Linked DNA regions of Homo sapiens: region 2 is linked to region 1. The links come from fine-mapping of genetic effects on gene expression. A gene starts in region 1. The other region holds a variant in brackets. All regions are shown on one strand. Distances are from middle to middle.

The links.
Region 2: its variant is fine-mapped to the expression of PRKCQ in whole blood (TOPMed, PIP 0.97).

What each region holds. Positions count from the first base shown.
Region 1 is chr10:6,572,124-6,584,453 of GRCh38, forward strand. It overlaps PRKCQ (protein kinase C theta), which reads right to left and starts at 8,153. Exons shown (of 18, transcript NM_006257.5): 1 at 8,088-8,153. PRKCQ-AS1 (PRKCQ antisense RNA 1) reads left to right here and starts at 8,302. Exons shown (of 2, transcript NR_036503.1): 1 at 8,302-8,804; 2 at 11,553-12,330. RefSeq lists enhancers at 1-56, 11,364-11,658 and silencers at 8,155-8,404, 8,415-8,564.
Region 2 is chr10:6,479,475-6,496,134 of GRCh38, forward strand. It overlaps PRKCQ (protein kinase C theta), which reads right to left. Exons shown (of 18, transcript NM_006257.5): 8 at 12,209-12,338; 9 at 6,561-6,670; 10 at 5,678-5,795; 11 at 3,966-4,126. LOC107984202 (a long non-coding RNA gene) reads left to right here and starts at 12,995. Exons shown (of 2, transcript XR_001747350.2): 1 at 12,995-13,036; 2 at 13,585-13,902. The variant G/C (reference allele first, on the strand shown) is at 9,760.

The DNA.
Region 1 (12,330 bases):
TCCCATCGCTCCCTCTTCCTTCTAGCCCCTGAGCTCATCTGATTCTATGACTTAAAGGAATGGTATAGAAAACTAAATGCCATAGGTATGTAATTTTCTTTAATTTTTATTTTTATTTTAAGTTCTGGGATACAGGTGCAGGACGTGCAGGTTTGTTACATGGGTAAACGTGCCATGGTGGTTTGCTGCACCTATCATCCCATCACCTAGGTATTAAGCCCCACATGCATTAGCTACTTTTCCTAATGCTCTCCCTCCCTCCAATCCCACCTCCCGACAGGCCCCAGTGTGTGTTGTTCCCCTCCCTGTGTCCACATGTTCTCATTATTCAGCTCCCACTTATAAGTGAGAACATAAGGTGTCCAGTTTTCTGCTCCTGTGTTAGTTTGCTGAGGATGATGGCTTCCAGCTCTATCCATGTCCCTGCAAAGGACAGGGATCTCATTCCTTTTTATGGCTACATAGTATTCTATGGTGTGTATGTACATTTTCTTAATCCAGACTACCATTGGTGGGCATTTGGGTTGATGCCATGTCTTTGCTATTGTGAATAGTGCTGTAATGAACATACGTGTGCATGTATCTTTATAACAGAATGGTTTATATTCCTTTGGATATATGCCCAGTAACAGGAGTGCTGAGTCAAACGGTATTTCTGGTTCTAGATCTTTGAGGAATTGCCACACCATCTTCCACAATGGTTGGACTAATTTACATTCCCACCACCAAGAGTGTAAAAGCGTTCCTATTTCTCTGCAACTTTGCCAGCACCTGTTGTTTCTTGATTTTTTAATAATCACCATTCTGACTTGCAGGAGATGGTAACTGATTGTGGTTTTGATTTGCATTTCTCTAATGATCAGTGATATTGAGGGTTTTTTTTCCATGTTTGTTGGCTGCATGAATGTCTTCTTTTAGGTACGAACAGATTTAATGTGTCCCAAACCAAATGATACAGTTTCATGAAATAATTACCCTTCCTACATGAAATGCATCTTAATATTTTCTGTTTTATTCTATTTCATGCTTGTTATCACCCCCAAAATTAATGTCATTGCCCACTAGTAGACTGTGTCTTGGAGTTTGAAAAACTGTGTAGAAGGCCTGCTTTTGTATAGCTAAAACATATCAGTGAAAACAGAACGGAAAATGTTGAAGCTTATGCCCTAAAAATGCTGAACACAGCTGAGATGAACTTCTCTCAAAACGACAAGAACAACAACATTTCTGCTTACTTTCAGGACAGACTTGGCTCACCTCTGAACCCCTGTCCTTTTGGCTAATTCCCATACATCTTCCATCCCCACCCGCGATACCTTGTCCTCTGAAAGCCTTTCCTGAACCTCCGAATCAGGACTTGGTTCCCTTCTACATGTTCTCAAAGCACCCAAGCAATCATCTACATATAGTGCTTAGCACAGCAAACGGCCGATAGTGACAAGTCAATACATGTTAGAATATATTGCCATAGTTTGTTTACTTTTTGATTTTTCCAATAGATTGTACGCTTATTAGGAATTCTTGCCCACAGGGAAAAAATTTCAGGATGACAAGGATTCTGCTTCTGCAGATATTTAAACCACCAGATAGAAATTTTTTTCTTTTAACACTTAGCCGCAGTCCTTTAGGTGTTACAAGGTTAAAAAAAGAAAAACCCAAAAGATGTGTTCTTGATATCAGCTAACACTCCAGTTAAAGGCGAAAAGAGCTAGGCCAGGTGTGGTGGCTCATGTCTTTAATCTCAGCACTCTGGGAGGCCAAGGCGGGCAGATCACTTGAGCCCAGGAGTTAGAGACTAGCCTGGGCAACATGACAAAACACCATCTCTACAAAGTGCACAAACTAGCCAGGCCATGGTGGCATGCAACTGTAGTCCCAGCTACTCAGGAGGCTGAGGCCGGAGGATCCCTTGAGCCTCAGAGGCGGAGGCTGCTGTGAGCTGAGATCGTGCCACTGCACTCCAGCCTGGGCGACAGAGCAAGACCCCGTAAAAAAAAATGCAAAGAGCCAAAGAGCAGACCCCTGGCTGTCTTGTTGTCTTTCCCTCCTAGTTGTTCATGAATTAAGTGCCCAGTGAGGAGACAGCTGCCAACGTATAGGTGAGTTTGCAGTGCAAGCCGAGTGCTGTGAGTTCATGGGCAGGTAAAACTCTCTGAAACGCTGGAGAGAACCTGAATGGCACTTGTATACATTGGTAGATAAAGCATTTAAAGGGTTCCTCCTGTTCTTAGAAAAGGATCAAACTCCTTCGTATGACTTAACGCAGGACAACTCTACGGGACAGTCTGCCCAGGACAATCTGGGTTTGTACCTGTTACCCAAGCTTAGTGATTAATAACGTGCTCTTTCACTCTATAAACAGTCCCCATCTGGAGGATAACGTATATGGTTCACCTGCTTACAGGTCCTATGTGATCTGGCACAGCTGACTCCTCCAGCTCCACCCAGCAATAGCCCACACACTGGCACATGCTCCTTTCTCGCAGCATCACTGCTATCAGAGATCACAATTTTCTTCACTTTGCAAATGGAGAGAATGACACTCCAAGAAGTTCACTGGTTAAGGTCATATGGCAAATTAGGATGGGGAGCAGAGGTTTAAATGGAAGCTGTGATGCTTACTCTGCTCATTTCCACTCATCTGCAAGGCTTAGACTGGACTGCACTGGGATTCCAGACTCACATGCTGCAGGGACATTCTACAAACACTGTTCCTACCTCCCAGAACCCCCATCTGGCTCACTGCCACTTCCCCTTCAGGTCTCAGTTGAGCCGTCACTGACAGCTCTGCGACACCCCAAATCTAGCTGTGCACATAATACCAAGTGTGTCCCCTACTGAAACACACAATCATTCTGCACATATTTGTTCACAACTTGGTATGTGTCAGGCCCTGTTAGAGTGGCTGGGGACACATGTAGGGACAAAATGCCAGCCCTCATGGAGTTTCATGCTAGAGGAAAAAAGAGACAGAAAGGAAACTAGCAAATATAAAACAGAGTTGCATGACATTATAAACTGATACAAAATAGTACAAATATCTCATGAATTCATCACAATTCATTATAATTTCCTATTTGCCTGACCACATCTCCCTGTGGGTTTTGCAGCACGGTGTGTGATCTGAGGCTTGCAACAAAGGCCTGGTGAATTCAATAGCAGTTTCCCTTTCCATTCTCTCCATTGTCCTGGGAACTTGTCCTGCTCTGATAACATACAAAAGATAATTATATCTGTAACTAATCTTCTAAAAAGCATCTGTCCCACACATTCAGGGTTATTAACACTGATGCCATGTTCACTTTATTCTCAACAACTACTCATTTCTGAATCATAAGGTTCCTCATGGAGGTGGAGATAACCCTACCTACCGGGACATTCTGTTTATGTTTTAGGGACTGTCCTTTCCATGGCTTCCCTAGTCCCTCAGGTGCTGTGTGAGTTGTATTTCCTCCATTAATTCTACACTAGAAAAAGGTGTATATGCTCAAGCTGGGATAGGAAATAAACAATGAACTCAGGAGTAGCATCAGCCCAGAGATCCCTGCCATTGGGCATTCAATGATTGGGTAAAAAGTTAACTATCAGCACCTTACACCAATTAGAAAGGCTACTATAAAGAAGATTTTTAAAAAAGCCCAGGTGCGGTGGCTCACGCCTGTAATCTCAGCACTTTGGGAGGCCAAGGTGGGTGGATCATGAGGTCAAGAGATCGAGACCATCTTGGCCAACATGGTGAAACCCCATCTCTACTAAAAATACAAAAGTTAGCTGGGTGTGGCAGCGCGTGCCTATAGTCCCAGCTACTCAGGAGGCTGAGGCAGGAGAATTGCTTGAACCTGGGAGGTAGAGGTTGCAGTGAGCTGAGATCATGCCACTGCACTCCAGCCTGGCGACACAGCGAGACTCCATCTCAAAAAACACAAAACAAAAGACAGCGTTGCTGAGAATGTGGAATAATTGGGACCCTTTCTACCACTGGTGGGAATGTAAAACGGTCCAGCCACTGTGGAAAACAATATGGCAGTTCCTCAAAAAATTAAACATAGAATTACCCTACGACCCCACAATTCTACTGCTGGGTACATACCCCAAAGAATTGAAAGCAGGACCTCAAACAGATATCTGCGTGTTCCTCTTCACGGCAGCATTATTCACAATAATCAAAAGATAGAAGCAACCATCAACAGATACAAGGATAAGCAAAATGTGGTATATCCATAAATGGAATAGTATTCAGACTTAAAAAGGAAGGAAGTCCTGTCCAATGCTGTCACATGGATACAGCTTGAGAACACTATGCTAAGTGAAATAAGACAGTTACAAAAGGATGGATACTGTATTCTGCTTCTGTGAGGTCCCTAGAGCAGTCAGAATCTTAGAGACAGGAAGTAGAAGGGTGGCTGCCAGGGGCTGAGAGGAAAGACGGATGAGGAACGAATGTTCCACGAGGACAGAGTTTCAGTTTTAGGAGATGAGAAGAATCCTGTGGATGGATGATGGCAATGGTTGCAAAACAATGTGAATATACTTAATGTCACTGAACTGTACGCTAGAAAATAGTTAAGAAGTTAAATTTTAAGTTATGTGTATTTTAACCACAATAAAAAAGTTAACTGGTAGGTCACCTGGGACTGCGGTTTAAAGCAAATGCTTGATGGTTAGACTAATCTGGATGGTCCAACTAACCTGACTCTACCACTGACTGGTTATAAGACCTGGACAAGGGGCTCTACCCCTTGAGCCTCAGTTTCCTCATCTGAAAAACTGGAATAATAATAATATCTAATTTATAAAGGCTTTTGGAGGTTAAATGAAGCAGTAATGCCTCTTACATATAAATAAAATTCTGAGTATGATATACAGCACATAAATTCTAAATAATAAAGACTCAAAACCATATTTCATTGGTTTTGTTGATGCTGATTATTATTATTATAATTAATACTATTAGCTTAATTCAAAAGCTAACATCAACCTACAGCAACCTGCAGAAAGATGTCCTGCCAAATACTTGCTAATTTAATCCAGGAGCAAAAATCTATGATTCTGGGCTTGAGTGAGCTTTCCTAATTTTAAAACTCTGATGCTCATTTTGTCCCCAAGAATGTGTTTAGATGACAGAGCAATCAGAATTTGACATGTATAAATGCTTGGCATGTTAAAATAATGAAAGATATTTTCACCATTGTAAGGAAACAGCTTTTAATCCATCTCTCTGGTTCAACATCACATTTTTCTATAGTTTCTCATGACTTCTTCCTTAACAATTGGAATAGGTATGAAAAAGCTGAGCTGAACACATAGCTGCTTAGAAATGAGCTGCTTAAAGTGTTAAAACAACAGAAACAGCAAGCATGAGTTTAATGCTATGTATGCCGTCACAATACTAATTTCTCTATTTTAAATTACAGATTACACACACACATACACACACACACGGAATCACGTCTATATTGCTGGGATTTTCATTATATAACAATATATCATTTTAAATGATTTGAGGCAAATTATTGAAAAAAATTAAAGACTGAACTCCATAAAAAGGAAATCACCTGAAATCAAATATAACCTTGTTAACAAACCAGCACATTAGCAACATTTTTAGGGGCAACAACATAATCAGCAACTCTAAGACATCAATCAAATGCATTAAAAACAGGAAGTACTAACTCTAATTCCTAATTTCCAGAAAGGCAAATATACCATAATTAAATAACACGTTATAAGGAGATTTGTCTGTGTAGGTCTACTTCTGAATCCCCGAAGTTACATACTTGTACCACAAGCCCATACTCTTGAAAGAAAATTCTGGACCCAGTCCACATGGAATTTTGGTTAAAACATCTAATTCATTGCAGAGAAGAATTTAGTCTTTTCCACGGAAGAGACAGCATGTGTTAGAATGAGAATACTTTATAGAAATGACCAGTGACAAGCCGGCTATGTAAGGGGGCTTCTGATGCCTGGCGTTAACAAGAGACAGAGAGTATTATTGTTGAAAGGGATCTTTGAGATTACAGAAGGAGCTGAGGTGTGAATAATCGAACACCATCCCCTTGTTGCCTGAAGGAGAAGTGAGACAGCAAAACAAATCAAATTTCCAGGAGCTGCACCGTGTATGGTGAGCGAAGACGCAATGAGGACATGTCTGTAGGAGAACAGAGGTAGAAGTTAGCTCCTCAAGTAACAGTTGCCATCCCGAGGCACCACAGCACAAGACAGTAGCGGAAATGAACATGACAACGCGGATGGTGGGTGACAAGAGTCTTGCCTGGATATTGACATTTTTAAAGTGTAGAAGAAAATCGCAGGTCACTGAAACAAAGGCTGATGGTGCCCAGCAGGTTACTCTTGAAATCAGAAACAGAAGTTCATGAGAGGCAAGAAGACAGAAACAACAACTGAAAAACTTAGAGTGGATCGCTAACTTGCAGGAGCTGTGCAGCTTTGGCTTTGCAGGTTTTAGAAGCTCTCCCTACGCCACGTCTTTAAATATATGTATGTTCAATCAGCAGGAGGAAGGGACTAACAAGAGCCTTCTGCGGTAAGCACCTGCATCAAACAATGGCACTGATCTCAGAGGGATTTTAAACAGCTGTGCATAAACTTCAAAAGTAATTTGCAACCATATTAGTAAATGTCACTCTTCTTCCCGCTAGACACAGCACTTTTAAAAGAGATTAAGCATCCGCAGTAAGCCTGCCATTTTACAAGGGTTACCAAAGATAAGTTAGGGAAAATATGAAGATGATGATTCACAAGGTCGGGGTGTGGGGTGGGGTGGGGGACCCAGGACCTTAGGAATAGGGCTTGTCTATCACACAGCCTCGGGCAAGAAGGGCCCAGTGGGGACCATGGCTTCTAGGGAGCAAACCAAGGGAAAAGAGCAACGGAGTGGACCCTCCAGGCTTCTTGCCTCTCTCACGGAGCCTCACGAATCCCAGTGGTTTAGAATTTTCTTTGGCAAAAGAAAAGGTCAAAGAGGCCGGAGTTGACAGAAAGCATGGGCGGACTTCTCAGATCTTGTAGGTGGTTCTTAAAAGAATTCAGCAGGCTTGAGGTGTGCTCTCAAAGGGCAACTGGAACGTCAAGGACTTGGACACCAGGCACAGATGGTTCATTTCCCATGGACAGGAAGAGGGCACGGAGTGCTCCCTCTTCCCTCCACCTTCTCCAGCCTAGTCCCCCTCAGCCTGTGCCACTCCTGAATCATCTTTTATAGCACCACGTCCAGCCCGCACAGGGGCAGGACAGCCCAGGGAACAAGGCAGTCCTGTGGCGCTCTCCTTGCAGAAATGACCGGAGTCTCCCAATCCAGCCAGCCCGTGGACCTCTCTTCATGCCCACGGGGGAGTGCACACGCCTGTAGCATTCAACAGTCACTCTCCCATTGATAACGGTGGCTCTCGAAAATCCAATACCACAAAGATACTTTATTGCACAAACTTTGCTTGGTTAACCTGGCCCTCAAAGCTGGGGAATAACCTCACTTGAGGCTACAGGAATGAGCACGCAGATTTTTCTTTTTTTTTTTTTTTTGGTATCTTTCAAAGACCTGCCTCCCCCTCCCCCAGGCCCTTGACCAGAAACTTGGCTTGTTTAGAAGCCTGAGCAATGGCACCCCCGTCCGTGCTCCAATACATTCCCAGAAAAGGGGTTATGCTCCCCTGTGGACAGGATACCATCTCCAGAAAACATGTTTCCTCACGCATTTTTTTTTTTTTTTTTTACCAAGAATACAAAAACTTTCCACCTTCTTCCCTCCCCGCAGGCCCCCTTTCGTTCAGGTGAGAAGGAAAAGGGAGAAGAAAGGAGGAAGCGCCCCCAGGCCGGCGGCCCCCACCCGGCTAAGGTCGCCAGCATCCCGCATCCCGTGCGACCTGCGTCCCAGAAACCCAGCGGGGAAATTCTTCCCGGTGCGCTCTTGCGCCCGCTTGGTTCCATTTCCTACTCCGCCTGCTCACCCGGCAGCCCTCACCCCTTCCCGGAGGCTCTCCGAGGGGCCCGGGTAGCCCTTCTCGCCACGGGTCTCGGCCCCTCCAGCCCGCTCCCTCCCGGCGGCGGCGCGGGGCGCGGGGCCCTACCTGGAGCGAGCACGGCGCCGCTGCTGCCCGGTGGCGCTGGGACTGCGCGGGGACTGCGCGGGGACTGCGCGGGGACTGGCGGGGCTGGCGGGGCTGGCGGGGCTGGCGGGGCTGGCGGGCCCGGCGCACTGCGGGTGCGCCTAGAAGGCGGTGCCCGCCAGGGGGCGCTCGCCAGCCTCCCCGCCAGCCCGGCCTCCCGGGACCCGGCACCTCTAGCCAGGGACGCGCGCTCGGTCCCCCGCCGTGCGCCCCCGGTCCCGCGCCCAGGCTCCCGCCCCTGGCCTCCTTACCAGCCACTTGTCGCCCAGCTGCGAACTGGAGCGGGAGGCGGCGGCCGGAGGGCCCAGGACAGCCCCGGGAGGGCGGCGAGGCGGAGCAGGAGCGCCCCGGCTCCGGCCACATTCTCAGAGTCAGGAAAAGGGGCGAGAGGCCACATGTCTCCCTCTCGCCCAACTGAAAACGAAACGGCGCTCCAGCAGATTGGGTGGAAAGAGCTGGGTCTCTTTTCTCTGTTTTTCACGCTAGAAAGGGCTTGTAAACATTGTTCCTTTTAAAATGACCTACCCCAGGCATTTGTTTGGGCACACTTCTGTCCTGGGGTCATCGTTCCTAGGTGGCTTCGGACCTGGGACTTTTCCTGTATCTGCACATTGTCGTTTTATACACAATTGCCAAGGTGGGACTGCTTTCAACTTTACTGTGCTTGAAGCTGCAAAGGTAATGTTGCCGCCGTGCGTGTCATTTTAGGACTTTTTATGCCTTGCGGGTAATACTAATGATGGTCACAGGGAGGATAAACGGGGTGGTTTCTTTTTCTATACTCCATGTAACTAATTTCTCATTCAGGTTAGAAAATTATATGTCTGGTTACTAATATTCTTACTGAATGGTTTCCTTGCAATGATGACACCAAATAATTAAAACGTACTTGATTAAGACTTTTGTTGCTGTAGTGTACTAAGATCAGATTAATCTGAGAAGTAAAATAGTAATTTTTTGTCCTTTTTTCTTTTCTTGTTTTGAGAGAGACATTAAAAACGATTAAAACAAAACAAAACAGGCCAGGTGCGGTGGCTCATGCCTGTAATGCCAGCACTTTGGGAGGCTGAGGCGGGTGGATCGCTTGAGGCTGGGAGTTTGAGACCAGCCTGGCCAACATGGCAAAATCGTGTCTCTCCTAAAAATACAAAAATTAGCTGGGTGTTGTGGCACGTGCCAGTAATCCCAGCTACTCAGAAGGCTGAGGCAGGAGAATCGTTTGAACCTGGGAGGAGGAGGTTGCAGTGAGCTGAGATCTCACCACTGCACTGCAGTCTGGGTGACAGCAAAACTCTGCCTCAAAAAAAAAAAAGGTTTAACAAAAGCCAAAAGTTGAATTAGCAGCCTTCTGATCATGGGAATGTAGGATGTCAACTAAAAAGAACCTCAGAGGTTGGGAAGGCAGATGAAAAACTGAGGCCCCGAAGTGTTTCAAGACTTGATTAAATCACTCAGGTCTGCACTAGGAAGCGAGTTATGATGATGCCCCTAATCTATATGAACCCAAATAAAGCCAAAACACACACACCTTTTAAGGATAAAACTATATTCCATTAAAATTAGCCCCGCATTTGTCAATATCTAACAGCATTGGACTGACCCTCAGGCCAGAGGCTGTAGCTCTTGGAAGATCCTAGCCAGGAGGTTTGAGAGTGGCCAGTACCTCGGAAGTGCTGGCTCACTCTGACATCATCAGAACCTGGCATACAGTAGGCGCTCATTGGGTATTTGCTATGGAAATTAGGCAGGAAAGTGCGTCTGTGTCTGGAAACAAAGAGGCAAAGCTTAAGCAGTGATCCCCATGCAGATTCTTTCTGCAAACTACAAAACAGAAGCTTCCCTAGTTCAGACTGCCATCCATCTGGCTCTTTCTCCAATTGTTTTTCAGCGGATCCTGTTACAGTGCAAAGAAGAAATGGCAAACGGATAACAGCTACTGTGCCTAGAAGATGGTAGATTCCTCACGCTCCATATCTGGGTTTCTCATTGACAATTAGGCACTGAAAGGAAGCTCATATGTCCTGTTAATTTAATCAGTAGTTAGTGGCTTTAGAAAAAGTTTCATATATACACCAGGTATGATAAGGACTTTTTTTTTTCTTTTTGAGACAGAGTCTTGCTGTGTTGCCCAGGATGGAGTGCAGCGGCGTGATCATAGCTCACTGCAGTTTTGATCCCCCAGGACTCAAGTTATCCTCTCACCTCAGCCTCCCAAATAGCTGGGACTACAGGCACACATCACCATGACCAAGCTAATATTTAAAAAGATTTTTTTGTAGAGACGGGGTCTCACTATGTTGCCCAGGCTGGTTTAAAACTCCTGGGCTCAAGTGATGCTCCTACCTCAGCTTCCCAAAATGCTGGGATTATCGGGGTGAGCCACCATGCCCAGCCTGTGATGACTTTAGACGCACTACTCATATAATATTCATAATCTGATGTGATATGTATCATCATCATTATCATCTCTCTTTAACAGAAGAGACTAACAAGGCTTAGAAAGGTTATGTACCTCGCTCAAGATCCCACAATTACTAAAGTACCAGAACCAAGATTCAAACCCAGGTCAGGCTGGAGCCACCATCTCAAGAGCTGCTGAATAATTAATTCTCCTTTTTTTTTTTTTTTTTTGAGATGGAGTCTTGTTCTGTCACCCAGGCTGGAGTGCAGTGGCACAATCTTGGCTCACTGCAACCTCTGCCTTCTGGATTCAAGTGATTCTTCCTGCCTCAGCCTCCTGAGTAGCTGGGATTACAGGCATGTGCCTGCCACCATGCTCAGTTAATTTTTGTATTGTTAGTAGAGACGGGTTTCACCATGTTGGCCAGGGTGGTCTCGAACTCCTGACATCAGGTGATCCGCCCACCTCAGCCTCCGAAAGTGCTGGGATTACAGGCATAAGCCACTGCGCCCAGCCAATTCTCCATTCTTACATCGTACACTCAGTTTTCTCTTTCTTTCTCTTTTGGACAACTGATCTTTGAGGACTCTTGGCTACTCAATTGTCCTATAATCGTATAGTCCTACAACAGGAAACCCGTTAACCTGAAGATCAGATCTTTTAAAACAACATCCATCATATATCTACAAAATTGGGATTTTTTTATCGTAAAATTTCATCTAAAACAAAAAATTCACATCTGTTCTTGGTATCCATTAGGTGTAGTGGACACCTCTAGATATTCTTGATGCCAGCATCCTGTAGACCCGCCATCTCCTTTCCCAGGCCATGGGGTGTTTCTGTTTTCTATTAGACACTGTCTCTTAGTTATATAAACGTGGCTGCTCTCAGAAGTTCTCCACACCTTTGTTTCCTGGAAGAGGAAATGGCATTTCCTGGAGGGGATGACACGTGGGCGGTGAGGTTCCACTCACTACGTTAAACACACCCTAACTTTCAGCTGTGTACTTCTTTTCCTCTTTCAGGTTCTGCCCTGATGTTTCCTGGAATAATGCTGAGGACTGCCTTTCGGGTAGCCGCCCTATTCAGTTCACTTCATCTCGGAAATACCTGACCCCTGCCTTGGATCCAGCGGCCCTCCTGAGAGCTGAGGAAGGAGGAAATCCTATGTGTCTGCTCCCGGAGCTGCCACAACCCATCTTCCCACAACTCGGAACTTGGAAAAAGGAACCCAGGACACGACTTTGCTTTTCTTTTGGACCTAGTTGGTGATTATACTCTGTCTCCCATGGAGACCACGTCTTGCATCCTTCCTTCTATATGGGATTTAGGATAGAAATTAAAAAGAAAACATATTATTTTGAGTCTTGATTTGGAGAAAGGTAGTATTCAGGAGGAAGTAGGCTATGATACACATAGAAAATTTGAGGACAGTGTTACTTAACAAGGACATTTCTGTCTCTGCAGAAGTCACAGCTTGGAGGAAACCAGTTTGCACTATTTGATGAGGAATTTGGCCACCAAACCACTGATACTTTCCCAAAGGTTTGGCAGAAATTGTTTTTTGAGTGGCTCACCAGAGTACCCAGAAGAATCAGTATGGAATTAGAGGACAGTGGCCTACCCTAAATAAAGACATGAGTGATGTATAAAGTCTAGTGTCAATTTATTCAGAAAATATCAAAATTATTCTGGGAGCTATGGGTCAAAGTTGATAGGCACAAACAAACAAAAACGAAAGGTATTTTAAATTCACAGCTTGGATAAGTAAAAGGGAGATGTTGTCATTTCTCTTCTTCAATC
Region 2 (16,660 bases), 90 kb before region 1:
AGAGATAAAGTGCACAGTGAAGAAAGAAGAGTTGAGTGTGGAGAGGAGAAACTGTACTCGAAACATCACTGCAAGTGCACATAAATCCTAGCTTTACGTTTTACCCAGTTTTTCCAGGCCAAAAGAAGAATGGAGGGATATAGTTCTCCTTGTGTACTTAAAAAATAAACACCGGCCAGGTGCGGTGGCTCAAGCCTATAATCCCAGCACTTTGGGAGGTCAAGGCAGGCAGATCATCTGAGGTTAGGAGTTCGAGACCAGCCTGGCCAACATGGTGAAACCCCGTCTCGACTAAAAAAAAAAAAAAAAAAAAAAAAAAAATCCAAAAATTAGCCGGGCATGGTGGTGGGTGCCTGTAGTCCCAGCTACTCGGGAGGCTGAGGTGGGGAATTGCTTGAACCTGGGAGGCGGAGGTTGTGGTGAACTGAGATCATGCCACTGCACTCCAGCCTGGGCGTCAGAGTGAGACTGTGTCTCAAAATAAAAAAAAATAAATAAGTAAACACCATTTTCTCTGACAACACAGCAATGAATTATTCATAGCAGAATGTATGGCATGTAGTAGGTCCTAAAATGTGACTGACACTGGGTTCAAAGGATAACTTGCTCAGATTCTTCGAGCTACTAGGGAAAGATTTAACTCCGAAGTTTACTTTCCCACTTGATTTCGTGGCTCTCGTATCAAAGGACACCAAAATGGGAATGAAACATTTTAGGACCTACTGTGTGTCATACACTCTGCTACCTACTTTACACTTACGACCTAATTGTATTATCTAATTTAATTCTTAGCTCATCACACTCTGCAAGACAGAAGTTAACAACATCAACAACAAACACTGAGTTCAAAGAATAACTTGCTCAGATTCTTGGAGCTATGAGGGAAGATTTAACTCCAAAATCTACTTTTCCCACTTGATTTTGTGGCTCTTATATCAAAGGACACCAGATGGCATATGATGGAGGGTTTCAACAATTTTAGTTTTTGCAAATGATGCAGCAACACACTGTTGGCAATGGTAAGGGCATGGCATTTGGATACAGAAAATTCTAGCTCTAGTTTTATTTCACAGACATTTATTAGCTGTGGAAATGTGGGCAGATGAATTAGCCCCTCTGGGCTTCAGTTTCCAATTACTACTGCATTCTCTAACTTACAGGACTGTTGTGAAAGTCAGGTAAGATGAGACCTGGGAAAGTAGACTCTAAAATGATCTCTGAATCACAGTTGCTAAAATTCAGTCATTTGTCATTTGTTTCTGTTATTGACTTTTGGGAAAGGCCGAAGTCAATGATGTGACAACAGCCCTGAACATGTAAGTGTCTAGGTTTAAAAGCGACGGAGCAGGTTCGTAGCTTGATGGTAGCTGACTTGATAGAAGGGAAGGGATGAAACTTAGATGGGAATTCAGGCAAATGAATGATGCTCACATCCCCAGAGAACACACAATTTGTTTTCTTAGGCTTAAAATTTGTTTGAGAACAAGGGTATAGAGGTCTTGGTGAGGAAACATACTTTCCACATAAAGCCAGAAGAGAGAGAAAAGACAAGTTTTGGAGTATTCTCAGTGTTGTGAGAAAGAGAAACAGCCATCCTGTCTTGCTTTGATATCTCCCCCTCCTCTCCTCTCCGTGTATAGGGACCCAGGGTCCTGATGAAAAGAAGTAGACAGCTTTGGACATGGAGTGGGGGAAACCTGGGGCTCCCAGCTGCACCTTGGGATACCGACTAAGGCTTGTAGGTTTAACTTAATGTCTTCCTTATTAACCTTATTCAAATGTGGAAATCCACATGGGAACAAAGAAAGATAAACATTTCATTAACAATTAAAAGTCCTCTTTTAGTAATTGCTTCTTTCAGTAAAACACCCTAAAACCAGCCATAAACTAAGAAGCCAAAAAGACAATTTCCATCTATATAATGTGCTTTCAATTTTTGGTAACAGGTTATAATTGCACATTAATTGCTGCTAAATTACAATGAAGACTGGCTGTAACATTGCCTATTATGCTCAGATTAGCACCAAATGAGCCTACTGTGGTTCATATTATTGTGGAACTGAACAAAAAGAATTCCTGAATATCAGCTACCATGTGCTGGACAGAGTCGATTCTGCTGAAAGGCAAGGCATCAGTGTTTAAATCCAAACCCCAAATGGAGCTCAATATTATTCAGCTGTGGTGACCGCTCAGTTGCATTTTAGTTTGTTTAATATTAAATAAACTGGGTAAGACATCCTGCCAAAGTCTGGTGAGCAGTTGTGGTGTATAATGCTGCCTTTGGCTGCACAGATTCATAGAACAGTCATCTCTGATTAAAATTTTCCTGGGAGTCCCATCCAAGAATGTAAAACAAATAGGAGCCCCGTTAATACATGAGATACCCTTAATATCAAAAATTACCTAAAAGCCTATATTCCATATCATCCCTCCTTAAATCACCAGCTTGAAAATTTTCTGCAGTCACCGGTAGTTGGTTATAATTTCTTAAATTATCTCTTCTTCCTTCTTCTCACCTCCCCTTTTTTTTTTTTTTGCTCCTCCTCTCCCTCTTTCCTTCCTCTCCTTGTCATCTGTGAGTGATGGAGACAACCCCCCACCTGCATGTATGGCAGGAAGAATTTAGAGGAGGGACTTTCTCCACAATTTTTTTCCAGGACTCTCAAGCTACAGTTTTCTTATGGGCTGAATTGTGTCTATACTGAAGTTCCAATCCCCAGGACCTTGGAAAGTGACTGTATTTGGAGACAGGACCTTCAAAGAGGTAATTAAGGTTAGATGAGGTTATTAAGGCAGGTCCTAATCCAATATGACTGGTGTTTTCACAAGAAGAGAAAATTTAAGCAGAGTGTGGTGGCACAACTGTAATCCCAGCTACTAGGGAGCTGAGACAGGAGGATCACTTGGGTTCGGGAGGTCAAGACCAGCCTGGGCAACACAGTGAGACGTCATCTCAAAAAAGGAGAACACTTGGATGCAGACATGCACAGGAGGAAGATGATATGAAGGCATGGAGAGAGGGCGACCATTGCAAAGCATGGAGAGGGGCCTGGGAAGAAACAACCCAGACAACACCTTGATGGTGAACTTCCATCCTCCAGACCTGCGAGAACATGAATTTCTGCTGTTTAAGCCAGCCAGTATGTGAGATTTTGTTATAGCAGCCTGTATTAGTCTGTTATCACACTGCTAATAAAGACATGCCCGAGACTGGATAATTTATAAAGGAAAGAGGTTTAATGGACTCGGTTCCACACAGCTGGGGAGGCCTCGCAATCATGGTGGAAGACAAAGGAAGAGCAAAGGGACGTCTTACGTGGTGGCAGGTGAGAGGGCATGTGTAGGGAAACTCCTCTTTATAAAATCATCAGATCTCATGAGACTTACTCACTATCATGGGAACAGCACAGAAAAACCCATCCCCATGATTCAATCACCTTCCACTGGGTCCCTCCCATGACACCTGGGGATTATTACAATTCAACGTGAGATTTGGGTGGGGACACAGAGCCGAGCCCTATCACACCCCAAGGAAACTTATACAAGCTGGAAGATATTTAATAGAGAGAGAAAAAAATCACATGCAAACTAAAACAACACTCCAGGCTTGAGAATGAAGCAAAAGAAGAGAAAACAAAATGAAACAAACACAAACACCGTGTGAAACAGGAAGTGGCTGAGGCACCTTCCTATTTCTTTGGTGCCCAAAGACATCAAACTCATAGGCGTGTGAGATGTACACTCTCCAAGCAAAGTAGCTTTGGAGACACAGGTTTCCAGAAAGCTGAGGCTACTATGGGCCTAGAGCCCTCGGGGTCCCTATTTATTCAGCGCTCCCTCAGGAAAGCTGTCTCTGACACTCACATGCAATCCTAGTGGCCCTATGAGTTTAATTTCTTTGACCAGGAACTTGGCTCATCAGTTCCTGGAGTTGGGCCATAGCATTCTCCCGTGCATTAGCTTACCTTGCCAAAACTTCCTTTCCCCAACATTTTGTGCAAGATAAAATCCTCAATTTTTAGTTTAATCTGCAGAGATGGTCTTTCTTTGTTCAGTTCAGGTTCTGGAAGATGGCACATTTTATCCACCTCATCCAACGGAGACTCCCAGGAAATGCCCTGAGGCTCTGAAAATGCAAGCTGGTGGTTAAAAATGAACATGGAGTAATGGAGGTCATTCTAGTTACTGAGAGCACATGCTTTCTCTTCTACTTCCCATGCTGAGGCTCCATCATAGTAATTGGGGGTGTTTAGAGGGTTTCCTACAGTTCAGGCAGCTTTAATACCTTTCCATCTGTCTGTGAGGGCAGCACCCCCTGTCTGTGAGCCTGGCATTTGGATTTTGGAGTGTGGACTATGTCTCTTTCTTCAATAGACTGGGAAATAGTTCAACTTAAGAAACAAATTCCAATCAGTAAAAGACCATATATGCAAAATACACAAGCACTGTTAATAATGCCACATCAAGGACATCTAGGGATTTTAACCAAATTTTAGGAAAAAAATGATTTTCAATTGTTTGCATGGCTCACAAACACAGTGGCATCAATTTCTACAATTTACAGCGTGAGAGAGACAGGAAATGAAATCTAGCAGATTTTTAAAGATCTGAACTGCATCATTCATCCCAGAATTCAAGTCAAGATGCTGCCTACGTTGGCCGGGTATGGTGGCTCACACATGTAATCTGACAACTTCGGGAGGCCGAGGTGGGCGGATTGCCTGAGCTCAGGCATTTGAGGCCAGCCTGGGCGACATGGTGAAGCCCCATCTCTACTAAAATACAAAGAATTCGCTGGGTGCGGTTGTGTGCGCAAGTAGTCCCAGGTACTCGGGAAGCTGAGGCAGGAGAATCCCTTGAACCCACAGGGCAGAGGTTACAGTGAGCTGAGATTGTGCCACTGCATTGTAGCCTGGGCCACAGAGCAAGACTCTGTCTTCAAAAAAGAAAAAAAAAAGATGCTGCCTATGTTGATCATTGCTAAGACATAGTCTCCTTGACTGCCTGGCAACCCCTCCTAAATGTAACCCAAACCTTTCATTTACATTTTTAAGTTGATTTGAAGTCAGAGAAAACATAAGAGAAATTTTTAGGAATTTCCCCCTGCCTACAATAGTCTCTATATTTTTAAATCCCTAGGTTTATCTTTCATACTCTTCCAAGGACACTAAGTATTTTAGAATGTATGCTGAAACGACTCAGGTCTCAGAAACATGGGTCATATCCACTCATGAACTGCTTTCAAACAGTAGGCTGGAAAAACTGCCATAATGTCATGAAAGTGGCTTTGAGTCCTTCTCTTTCCTACCCTTAAATTTAAGTCTCAAAGGTGCAGAGTAAGAATGTCTTCTGTGGCCTTCCCACCATCAAATTTTAAGACAGATTTATTTCTGTGAAACCATTTGACACTGACAGAATGTAACATGCTGAAACTCTAAGAAAACATTTGTGGTTGTTCCCTCCAGACCTATCCCATTTTCTAACCCCCACCTCCTGCCTTTTACAAAGGTAAAAGGTTTTAGTTTCTTTTCTAAGAAGTGGGAGCCTCTTAGTTGGTAGCTGGAGGTGGATCACCTATCAGACCAGGTAAGCTGATAACTTAAATCCAAGGGCATTAGGTTAGGGTTAATTGAGATTAATGACTGACAGTGATTAGACTGCTGATCAGGACAGCTACCTCTTTTTCCCGGTGTCGGTAAACATGGCGGCCTTGCTTCATTTTTGATGGAGCATGGGAGACCAATTTCAACCGGACCTTCTCTGAAGATCTGTTCAGTATCTCTTAAGCAGCGAGCCTGGATGACAAACAGAGAGTCAGACCACCCACCCACCCACCATTGATGGAACAGCTCAGCCTGCTAACGATGGGGACAAAGGCCATTTAAAATGTTTAAATGCATAGGGTCAACAAAGATCTCCTTATCCTCAACGTTCTTTTGGAACCCCATATTCTGGGAGAGTCTATCTACTGTATTTTATGCATTAGCCGAACACGTTTGCCTCCTTCACACTTTTCTGGGGCTGACAGGATTCTCTCATGCTGTCTACATCATTCCATCACAAATAAGGACAGGTAGTTAATGGATGGGAAAACAGCTGATACAGGCAATGCCAAGTCTTAAAGAGGGTTTATCCTTGGATCTAGGAATTCAGCTAATGCCAAAACAGTAAACAGCAGGCCAAATTTGCCCTGGACTCGGTGTTCCATGAGGATGATGCTAGCACATAAGTGTTTTCCCCCAGGCTATTCTATAACCCGAATATATTCACATAAAGCTGTCAATGAATCTTCAATAACTTTAATGAATTTATTTGTTTCTGCAATGCTCATGCCATGAAGAATTTAAGATTTTATAAAGATCTGCATAATACAAATGCATTAAATAAATATCTCAAAGATAGGGGGTGTGGGCATGGATATGAAAGCCAAGGGCAAGGCCGGTGCTCAGAAATACATCCCGGCATTTCCCATAGGGCTGCCACAGGTGAAGCAGCAGAAGTGCATGGACATCCTTGCTGAGCGGCCATGGCGGGAACGTGTCCACGGCACATGCTCCTACCTGTTGAGTGCTCTCAATCATGGCCAGCGCTTCAGCCATTAGCTTCTGGTTTATGCCACAAAGGTTGGCCACCTTTGTCTGGCATCTATGATGCACATTCATGCCACATGCTGGAAGGAAGAAGGCAGATAGTGAGCAAGAGTGGAAGAACCCCCTGGTGCTAAACAACTCTCTCTGGAGGTAAGACAGAGCCTTGCGGATAGGGAGGAAAGCCTAAAGTGCCACGGCTGGGAGGAAGTTGACCCTGGCTCTCCCTGGTAGTGATCCTCGTGCTGGAAGGGAAGTGAGGTAGGAGGTGGGACTCAACTCTGGAGGTGGGGTTCAGACGCCAGACCAAATTGAAGACTAGCTAAAACAGGGACAGGGCAGAAGCAGCTTTCCAGAAGATGCCCACCTGCGTGCCATGTCAGTTTAGTGTTGCCATGGCAACACCCAGACGTTACCACCCTTTTTCCAGGAACTTAATTTGCATGTAGTTAAAAGTGGTATAAATAGGATTGCAGCACTGCCCTGAGCTGCTACTCTCTGCCTCTGGGGTAGCCCTGCTCTGCAGGAGCAGTCATGGAGCTGTAACACCAACAGAACTGTAATACCGTTGGCCAATGAAGCTGTTTTCTTCTACCAACAGCCGACCCTTGAATTCTTCCTGGGCGAAGCCAAGAACTCTCCTGGGCTAAGCCCCACTTTGGGGCTCACCTGCCCTGCATCAGAAGAATATTCCTGCCCACTCCAGTCTGGGTCCAAAACATCCCCTTTCCCACCTGGGCCATGAAGAGCTTCCCCCAGCCTTTAGGTTGAAGCCCAGGAGGCAGCCTCAGCCTGCAGATGGATATCAGACGGTGGAGCCGGAGTGTATATGTGGGAAGGGATGGAGTAGGAGGAGGCTAGCAATGCCAGGAGAGGTCACGGCAGAACACACCTAGCAAGACTGGACCAGGCATGAGGACCTCAGCTTTGAAAAAAAAATCACAAACTCTACACACGGTGTGGAAACATAAAGCCACAGGCTTCACCAGTGTGGGCTTAGATGAGGAGGCCAACAGCAACCGGGTGTTTGAGCACATTCCCCAGTTTCCAGGCCCCTGTACCCATGCCTCCTGAAAACCTCGTGTGATTATGGGAAGGGTAGAGGGCCCCAAGGATTACTAGATGAGAATGTTAACTAAGTGGATCTCACAGTCATAAAGAAAGTGATATTTCTTGCACGCATGAACTGATGGCGTAAATTGACATCTACAACCTGTTATGAAAGGTAACTCGAAGAAAAAGAACCAAAGTTTTCTGTCATCTTTATAAGTCACATAAGATGTTAAAGAAAAAGAAAGAGGAGAGGGAAATACTCGAGCACCTGTCAGGTGGGTGGAGAACGGGGTGCTGGTGGCAGCTTGCACAGCGTGGACACTGTGTGACCTTGGGCAAGTCATGAACGCTCTGGGGGCTCCCGATTAAGGATCTCCAGCACTGGACTCATGATCTATACAGGATTCTAGCTTGGGGATCCTACAATTCAGGGTGAGTATTCTGATTCATGAATCTTGAAAACAGTAGCATAGAATCTAACTTCCATTGCCAGTGACCAAGAGATCCCTCTTGGACTGGAGAGCGTGTGCCCATGTGACTGTGTAAAGACAATTATTAGTTTTAGAAATTCAAATTTTGCTAATGAAACATCACCATTAAAGGCCAGGCGTGGTGGCTCACACCTGTAATCCCAGCACTTTGGGAGGCCGAGGCGGGCAGATCACCTGAGGTCAGGAGTTTGAGAGCAGCCTGGCCAACATGGTGAAACCTCATCTCTACTAAAAATAATAACAATAAAAATTAGCCAGGTGTGGTGGTGCACATCTGTAATCCCAGCTACTCAGGAGGCTGAGGCAGAAGAATCACTTCAACTTGGGAGGCGGAGGTTGCAGTGAGCTGAGATCGTGCCACTGTACTCCAGCCTGGGAGACAGAGCGAGACTGTGTCTCAAAAAAAAAAAAAAAAAGAAACATCACCATTAAAATACAGAAAAATCAGATATAAAGATTTCCAAACTCCAGCTGACAGAGTCTGTGAGTAGAGAGTGTTGTAATAGAAGCAGGCACCAGGTGCTATGACATCATGCAGTCTTAATCTTATCTGCTGATTTGCACATGTGTGTGCAAAGAAGCTTAGCACAATGACTGGCATCGAGCAGGCGCTCAACAAATACAACTTCCTTTTCATCTTCATCATTTATTGCATAGATGTAGATATTAAAATATTTAGGTGAAATTTGGGCAACCCTCACCTGTAGTTTTCACTGGTCCACTCTTCTTCAAATAGCTCAATAATAAAATAAAGCAGAATTTTCTATGTAAATAACTATTACTTTTTTTTTTTTTTTTGACATGGAGTCTCGCTGTGTCACCCAGGCTGGAGTGCAGTGGCACGATTTTGGCTCACTGCAACCTCGGCCTCCCGGATTCAAGAGATTCTCCTGCCTCAGCCTCCTGAGTAGCTGGGATTACAGGCGCCCATCACCACACCCAGCTAATTTTTGTTTTTAGTAGAGACAGGGTTTCGCCATGTTGGCCAGGCTGGTCTCCAACTTCTGACCTCAAGTGATCTGCCCACCTCGGTCTCCTAAAGTGCTGAGATTACAGGTGTGAGCCACCGCGCCCGGTCAACTATTAACCATTACTAGACCGAGTATATAGGCATAGATATAGCCAGAAAAATTCACCTGAAGCAAAATCTTTTCTGCATATTTAAAATCTTTGTTGTTGTGTTGTTGTTCTTGAGACAGGGTCTTGCTCTGTTGCCCAGGCTGGAGTGCAGTGGTGCAATCATAGCTCACTGCAGCCTCAAACCCCTGGGTTCAAGCCATCCTCTTGCCTCAGCCTCTTGTGTAGCTGAGACCACAGGCGTGCACACCACTACACCCGACTAATTTTTTTATTTTTCGTAGAGATGGGGGTCTCACTTTGTTGCCCAGGCTGGTCTCAAACTCCTGGGCTCAAGCCATCCTTCCGCATTGCCCTCCCAAAGTGCTGGGATTACAGGTCTGTTACCGTGCCCGGCCTAAAATCTTTACTATAGAAAGGATTTTTTTTTTTCATGATTGTGCTCCAAATTCCACATTGTCGGCAAAACTCGCATAACTCACATTCGCCCTATTTAGAAGGTGTCAGGTTTCAACTTCGGTAGCCCCAGCTCCATTTTCTTATGCATCACC[G/C]TGACACCAAGTGAGGTTGTCAGCTAGGATTGAACATAGAGGGATGGAGTTTTACTTTGCTCCTTAAAACTGTAGCCACATCTAGGCTTCTCTGTGACTTGCATGGCCGCGAAGAAAGGCCACCACCATCTCCACGAGAAGGTCCTAAGTCTTTGTTACTAACCTATCAGGCCGTAACTCAGTTTCTTGGAGGGCAAAGAGTCCCTTTGGATGACTATTTTCTTGGGAATTATTGTGGGGAGAAAGAGAAGGCAGGGTAAAAGGCTAAGGAGGCCCTACTTAAGACGACGGCCTGCAAGGAGGCAGGATGAAAGGGAGGCAGAGAGGGAGGGAAGAGAGCTGGAGAAGAGGGCGAGAAGAGTCGAGAAAGGAGGACGCGGGGGCATGCGGGGTGAGCGGAGCAGGCGGGGTGAGCACAGTGGAGGGGCAGGGACCCGGGAGTGTCAGAAGCAAGAATGGAAAACAAACCAGGGCAGGGGAGGGAGAGGAGAGGGGACAAAAGAAAAAGGGGAGGGGAGCACTTGAAATGTAGGTGGTAGGAGAGAGCGGGGAACAGAATGGAGCGGAAAGGAAAGAGTATTCAAGGAAAGAAATGAAACGAAGCAGGCAGAAGAGCCATGAAATAACGCCCAGGAACCCCTGGGAAGTTCTAAGCTGTGCCGCGGCGCTGCTGGGACCAGCTCTTCTTGCAAGTGGATTCTCGGGCTCCCAGGACAGAGAACCCGACCTGAGACCATCACAGGAGAACCAAGAGGCGAGAATTTCTCCTGTTTCTGTGGATACCGTCAGGATGCAGGATGCCGGGACACTACGTTTTGTCTCTGACCTCCTAATGAACTCTTAATACCCTGCCTATCCATGTCTTCTTGAACAGGGGTGTAGAGAAAAGCGTGTCAGTGTCCTTTGGGGCCAGGAACGGATTCTTGAGGCTAATGTTGGCCTCCTGTGATGTCTGCTTTAGGTAATGATTTGAAAACCTAACCCCTCCTGCCTCCACTGAGAGGTCGCTCTGGGTTCCACCAGACATGTGAACAGGATTGGGATGAAGAAGGGGAGAATGCGGAAGATGCTGTGCCGCCTTCCATCACGTACCTCATTGCTCAAAAGAGAGGACATACATTAGTCAGTAGCACTGATCAAAATAGGGCTGCCAAGAAAAAATAAAGTGGCTTATATATTTAATACTTCATCATAAGAAAAGGTCTGTGCTCACCAGGCATGGTGACTCACTCCTGTAATCCTAGCACTTTTGGAGGCTGAGGAGACAAGATCGCTTGAACCCAGGAGTTTGAGACCAGCCTGGGCAACATAGCAAGACCATACCTCTAAAAAAAAAAAAAAACAAAGAAAAACAAAAAAAACAAAAACAGGCATGGTAGCACATGCCCATGGTCCCAGCTACTTGAGAGGCTGAGGTGGGAGGATTGCTTGAGTCCAAGAAGTCAAGTCTGCAGTGAGCTGTGATCGAGCCACTGCACACCAGTCTCCAGTCTGGGCAACAAAGTGAGACCCTGTCTCAGAAAAAAAGTAAAAGAAGAAGAAAAAAATCAGAAGCTGTCTGTATGCAACAGGTGGTTCTCCTTTTGTGGCTCTATTCTCTGGGCTCTGCCCACGTCTCTCCCCAACCAGAAAGCAGAGTGCCTTGTCAGTTCTTGAGGGTTTTTTTTTTTCTTCCCTAGTCCTTAATCCTAGTGTAACAGCATCTCAGCTTCTAAACGTTATCGCCTTAGCAACTTGGAGTTGTACAGCAAGAAAGCCTTGCCTTGTTTCCTTTTTTGATGGTAGGTCTGAGAAACTCCATCAATAATGAATGGCAGGTTAGGCTCTGCTGCGATCCTGGCCTTGGAGGAAAGACCAGAAAACAGGCAATGACGGTCACAACCGGGCCAGCCTCTTACTGGGCACTTGGAGTTCACAGCAATGGTTTAGGGATGGATGCTCAAGCTAATGTTACAGAATTTCTGTGCAGGACCATGTGTCAGCCAAATGAATGTGCTGGGCTTGCTCCTTGATGAGATGACAGAAAGAATCTTACTGGCTGGTGCAAAGGAGAAGGGTTAGGGTACCACACAGCTAGACCTGTTGGGATTAGGAAGGGGCAGCCCAGAGCCCACTGAGGAAACTAGTAGTAGAAAGACCAGTGAGAGGAGAAACACTGTCTTCATTTCCCCCAGGGCTATGGTACGGCAGAAGGTGATGGAGCTAGGAGTTTGACCTTGAACCTGAACTGTTGTGCTCTTTTCTGGGATGTGTGGGTGGGGGTGTTGCAGGGTGCAAGGAAAGGAACATAGTGGCTTATTGCCCCAGAAGACCATACTTATGATCATGACTTGTCTGGGCTGGGTGTGGAAGTGGTACCCCCTACATCCTCCCTCCAGTTCCCCAGAAAGCCTTGCTCCATCCCCTAGGGGGTCCACGTCGGGCCATGCTCATCCCCCACTGGACTCACCATCACACTTGAGTCCTTGCCGTGCCAGTCCCCACAGCAGGGTCCCACAGTGTTCACAGAAGGTCGGGCTCTTGTAATTGTAGACTTTAAATCTGTGTGGCATGTCAATTTTGAATCTCTCCTTGTGGAACTGAAAGAAAGGCAGAAGGTGAAATCTGTGTATTCCTGGGGCCCCGACTTTGGATGTTCTTGCAGATACCTTAGCATAACTAACAGAGATCATAATGAAAACACTGGCATTGTGTGCATTTTAAACCATCATTGTCACTTGTCAAGCCCTACAGTCATGCCTGAAGAAGGCAGGCAGCCTCAGCAACTGTACGTGACGGGGCATGCTTGCCTTCTGCATGTAGCAAGAACCTTGCAGACAGCTGAAATCTGAGGCATTCACACAGACAGGCTAAAAGCTCAGGAAGACTGCATGAGGGTTATTTTAAAAAGTGCTAAGGAAACAGTGCTCCCATTTAAATAGATGAAGATTCCCTTCCTGTTTTACTATAAATATTTCCTTTTCTCTTTCAGTCCAGAACTAGTGCTTTTAACCTTTGGAAGATGTAAAAAAAAAAAAAAAAAATGCCTTCTTTAAAGGAAACATTTCTATGGGTTTATCAGTATTACTGCCTAATGTGAGAAGCATTTTCACACCTATTATTCATGAACTGAGGTGGCAAGAGGAGGGAGCAGTTCCTGCCAGGTGCGGTTAACAAATATGTCACACGCATCATCTATTACATAGGTGATATCTCACGTAATCCTCAGAATACCCCTTTTGAAGTCGCTTCTATTAGTATCCTCCTTTGACAGACGAGGAAATGAAGCACAGAGAAGGTAAGAAACTTGCCCAGGACACGCAGCTCTAGAGCTGGGATATCTATAAGCTTGGCAGTCAGAATCAGAGCCCAGCCATTCTCTTTTCTGTCTCAAAATAAATGTGAAGGCTTATCGGGGTAGGGAGAGGGGAGTGGGAGAGGGATGCTAGTGATCGACATGGAATTTTTTTAAAAAACAGTTTTCCAGAGTTTAAATCAAACTTATTGCAGGAACAACAAAACACTTGGATAGTTGGATTCCTGGTAAGAATGTGAATATTCTTGTGCAGGATAAAATGCTTTATTTTCTAAAGGTTTATAATCTCTGCAGAAGTTTCTAATTCAACAGTTCCTTTGGGAAGGTGCATAGCAAAGATGCCTTATTCATCAGCACAGCAATAGATCTAACGTTCCCGCCAGGGGTACTGGTCAGCGTTGGTTCTTTAGAAAGCCTGTGTAGAATCGATTAAAAATTGCTCAGCACTTACTACAGCCATTTTCAACCAAGAAAAAAATAATTTTCGGGACTCACTTATATTCCACAGTTTAAATATGGACAATTAATAGGTCAAGGTCCAGGCTGGAAGGGGACCACTTCGAATCTTGAATGCAGGGGCAAACAGCTCAAGACACCATGGCTGATGAAGACGCTATGTACACGCTTTCCAGTATGAAAACCAATGAGCTACATGGGGCTGGCGAACACTTGAAAGGTGGTGAGTTAGAGTTGAGATGTGCTGGACGTGTAAAATAATACATCCTGGAGTTTGAAGACTTTTGTATAAAATTACTTAAGATATCTGAATTTTTCAAATGTCGATTTTTTGTTGAAATGATATTTGAACAGATTGGATTAAATAAAATGTATTATTAAAATTAATTTCACCCATTGCTTTTTCCTTTATTTAATGTGGGCTACTTGGAAATGTAAAATTACACATGTAGCCCTCATTCTATTTATTTCTATCGGACAATACTGCTCCAGGGGTAGAGGAACAAAAGAATCCCAAAGATGATGTCCCCTTGAGTGAACAAGAAATCAAAATATCCTGGGAGAAGATAATATCACAGACATTTATTTATGTAGCTGACAGTTTCTCAAGACTTTGTACCAGGAACTTTGTTAGTCATTGAGGTTAACAGTGATTCAGAGATTTGCGTTTTTTTCTAGAAAAGCTGAAGGCATCAAGTAAAGGAAGAAGTCTGGGAGGTGAAAATTTGATCTAAGCAAGCAAAAACATGGTCTGAGAGATTGTGATCTTAATTTTAGTACCAGCTCTGCCACGTACAGGTGATCAAACATGAACAAACTACTTTAACCTCTTTGAGTCTTAGCAGAATCACCGGTTAGCACAAGTTTATCTCCTTCTGCTTCTAAATGTTAGGAGAAATTCTACTCTGGAAAAACCCAGCCACTTCGCCTTCTCTGAACCTGCCCCTTTGTTGGAGAAAATCATACTCCTGAGCAGGCTGACTCCGTCAAATTCAAATGGACTTTCAGCTCTGCTCCACAGTCTGACTGCTTTTCACGAGTCACCTTGCTTTCTCTAAGATAATTATCTCATAGATCTTCCTTTTTCCTCGAAGGCACTTGTTGCTTTCTCTTTTCCTTCCTCCAGCCATCAAACTCCATGGGGGACACATGCAGTCTAAGGGAAGCGCCTTTGTGTGCCCATCACCAAAGCTCCACACCCATCCCCATCAGCAACTGTCTTGCCCTACTCCCTTCCGGTTAAACTGTGGAAGCTCCAGGGACCAGTCTCCACCAGAGCTCAGGCCCTCTTCGCTTCCTGCCAACAGACTTGACTGTTTTGTTTATCTGTCTCTCCAGCTTTATCCATCTCTCCCTGGCCACGGGAGCACTTGCCATCCTTGGGGTCTCATTTCCCAGCCACTGTTCTCTGTCCATCATCTCCTTCATGGTTCACCTTCTTCATAATATCAACTTACAGGTTGTTTTCATGTCATCACCTCAGTCACCCTTCTGCAGGTCAATCAGACTAATGCCTCCAAGATGCCCCTGACATTTCTCTGATTTAAGCCTGTGAAGATCTGCACGTGGGCCTCAATTTCAACACCTCAACTGCACAGAACACAACCCACCTCTTCTTCTTCTGGTTTCTGTAACTTCATAGACTCTGGGTGTAGGAGGAGCGGTCTCTGAGCCCAGTTTCTCAATGTCTATCTCTGTCCTTTATCTTCTACCTAACATCTCATTTTAGATTCCTTTGTAGTCAGTCCTGAACTTTCTCTATTTCCTCACTAGGCAATCTCTTCAGCAACTTTAAAATCTACCTATATGATGGTCACTGTCAAATTTATAGGGTTGGGCCCTTGTCCCAGAGGAATTCCAAGCTCATGTGAAATTGTCTATTTGATGCTTCAACTTGGATGTCCACCTCTCCGACTCAACATGTCCAAACTGGAAAAATTCATCTCTCCTTCCAGTCTTCTTCACTCCGTCGTGGCTCTGTTATCTACCACACTGCTCGGCCTCGGGCAGAAGCCAGAACCTGCGGCATCATCCTTATATCCACCTCTTTCATCTAATCTTTTGGCAAATCCAGTCATTTCTAACATCAAAATCACCTGAGAACCTGCCCCTTTGCTCCACCTCTGCTGACGTCTCACTGGTATAAACCACCAACCTCCCCGCTTGGAGGATTCCTTCCATCTCCTCTGGTTTCACTTTCACATCTCAACGCACTATTTCTACTACAGCATCCCAAAGTGGGCTTTCTACTACAAGTTGCACAAAATACAATCATTTTTCCAGGCTCCAAAGAAACCCCGCATGACCCAGGCCTTGGTGCCTTCCCCAGTGTGGGCTTCCAGTCTGCGCAGCCCTTGCAGCTGTCACCACACTGGTCCCATTTCAGTTCCTGGAACACATTGGACTCTCCCTCAGCAGGGTCTTCCAGCCTGTAAGGAGCTTCCTTCCTCCTGCTCTTCACCTAACCAGCTCTGTCACTCTTCAGCTGTCAGTTTCAATGTTCCCTCCGTTGGGGAGATTCCCGGACCACAGAGTCTCAGTAGGCCACATGCTTACTCTCCACCTTGCACCTTGTTCACTATCTTTGTAGCACTTAATATAAATCGAAGCCATACATAGCTGTTTATTATCTGTTTCTCCAACTTCGCAGGACCACGTCTGTTTTGTGTTATGCTGTCATTGGAAGAATGCGGTATCTTCCATGAATCAGATACCCAGTGAGGATTTGTGGAATGAAAAAGGAAACGGTGGGAGAAGGAAGTCAAAAGATTTCATAATGAGTGACAGAGTGGAGTAATAGACATTGGAGACTACAGATGGCAGGATGGGAGGGAGGGAGGATTGAAAATTACCTATTGGGTGTAATATTCACTCTTCGGATGGTGGGTTCACTAGAAGCCCAGACTTCCCCACCAGGTAATATAGGCATAGAAGAAATCTGTACTTGTAGGCCAGGTGTGGTGGCTCATGCCTATAATCCCAGCACTTTGGAAGGCCAAGACAGGTGAATCACCTGAGGTCAGGAGTTTGAGACCAGCCTGGCCAACATGGTGAAACCGCATCTCTACTAAAAATACGAAAATTAGCCAGGCGTGGTGGCATATGCCCGTAATCCCAGCTACTCAGGAGGCTGAGGCAGGAGAATCTCTT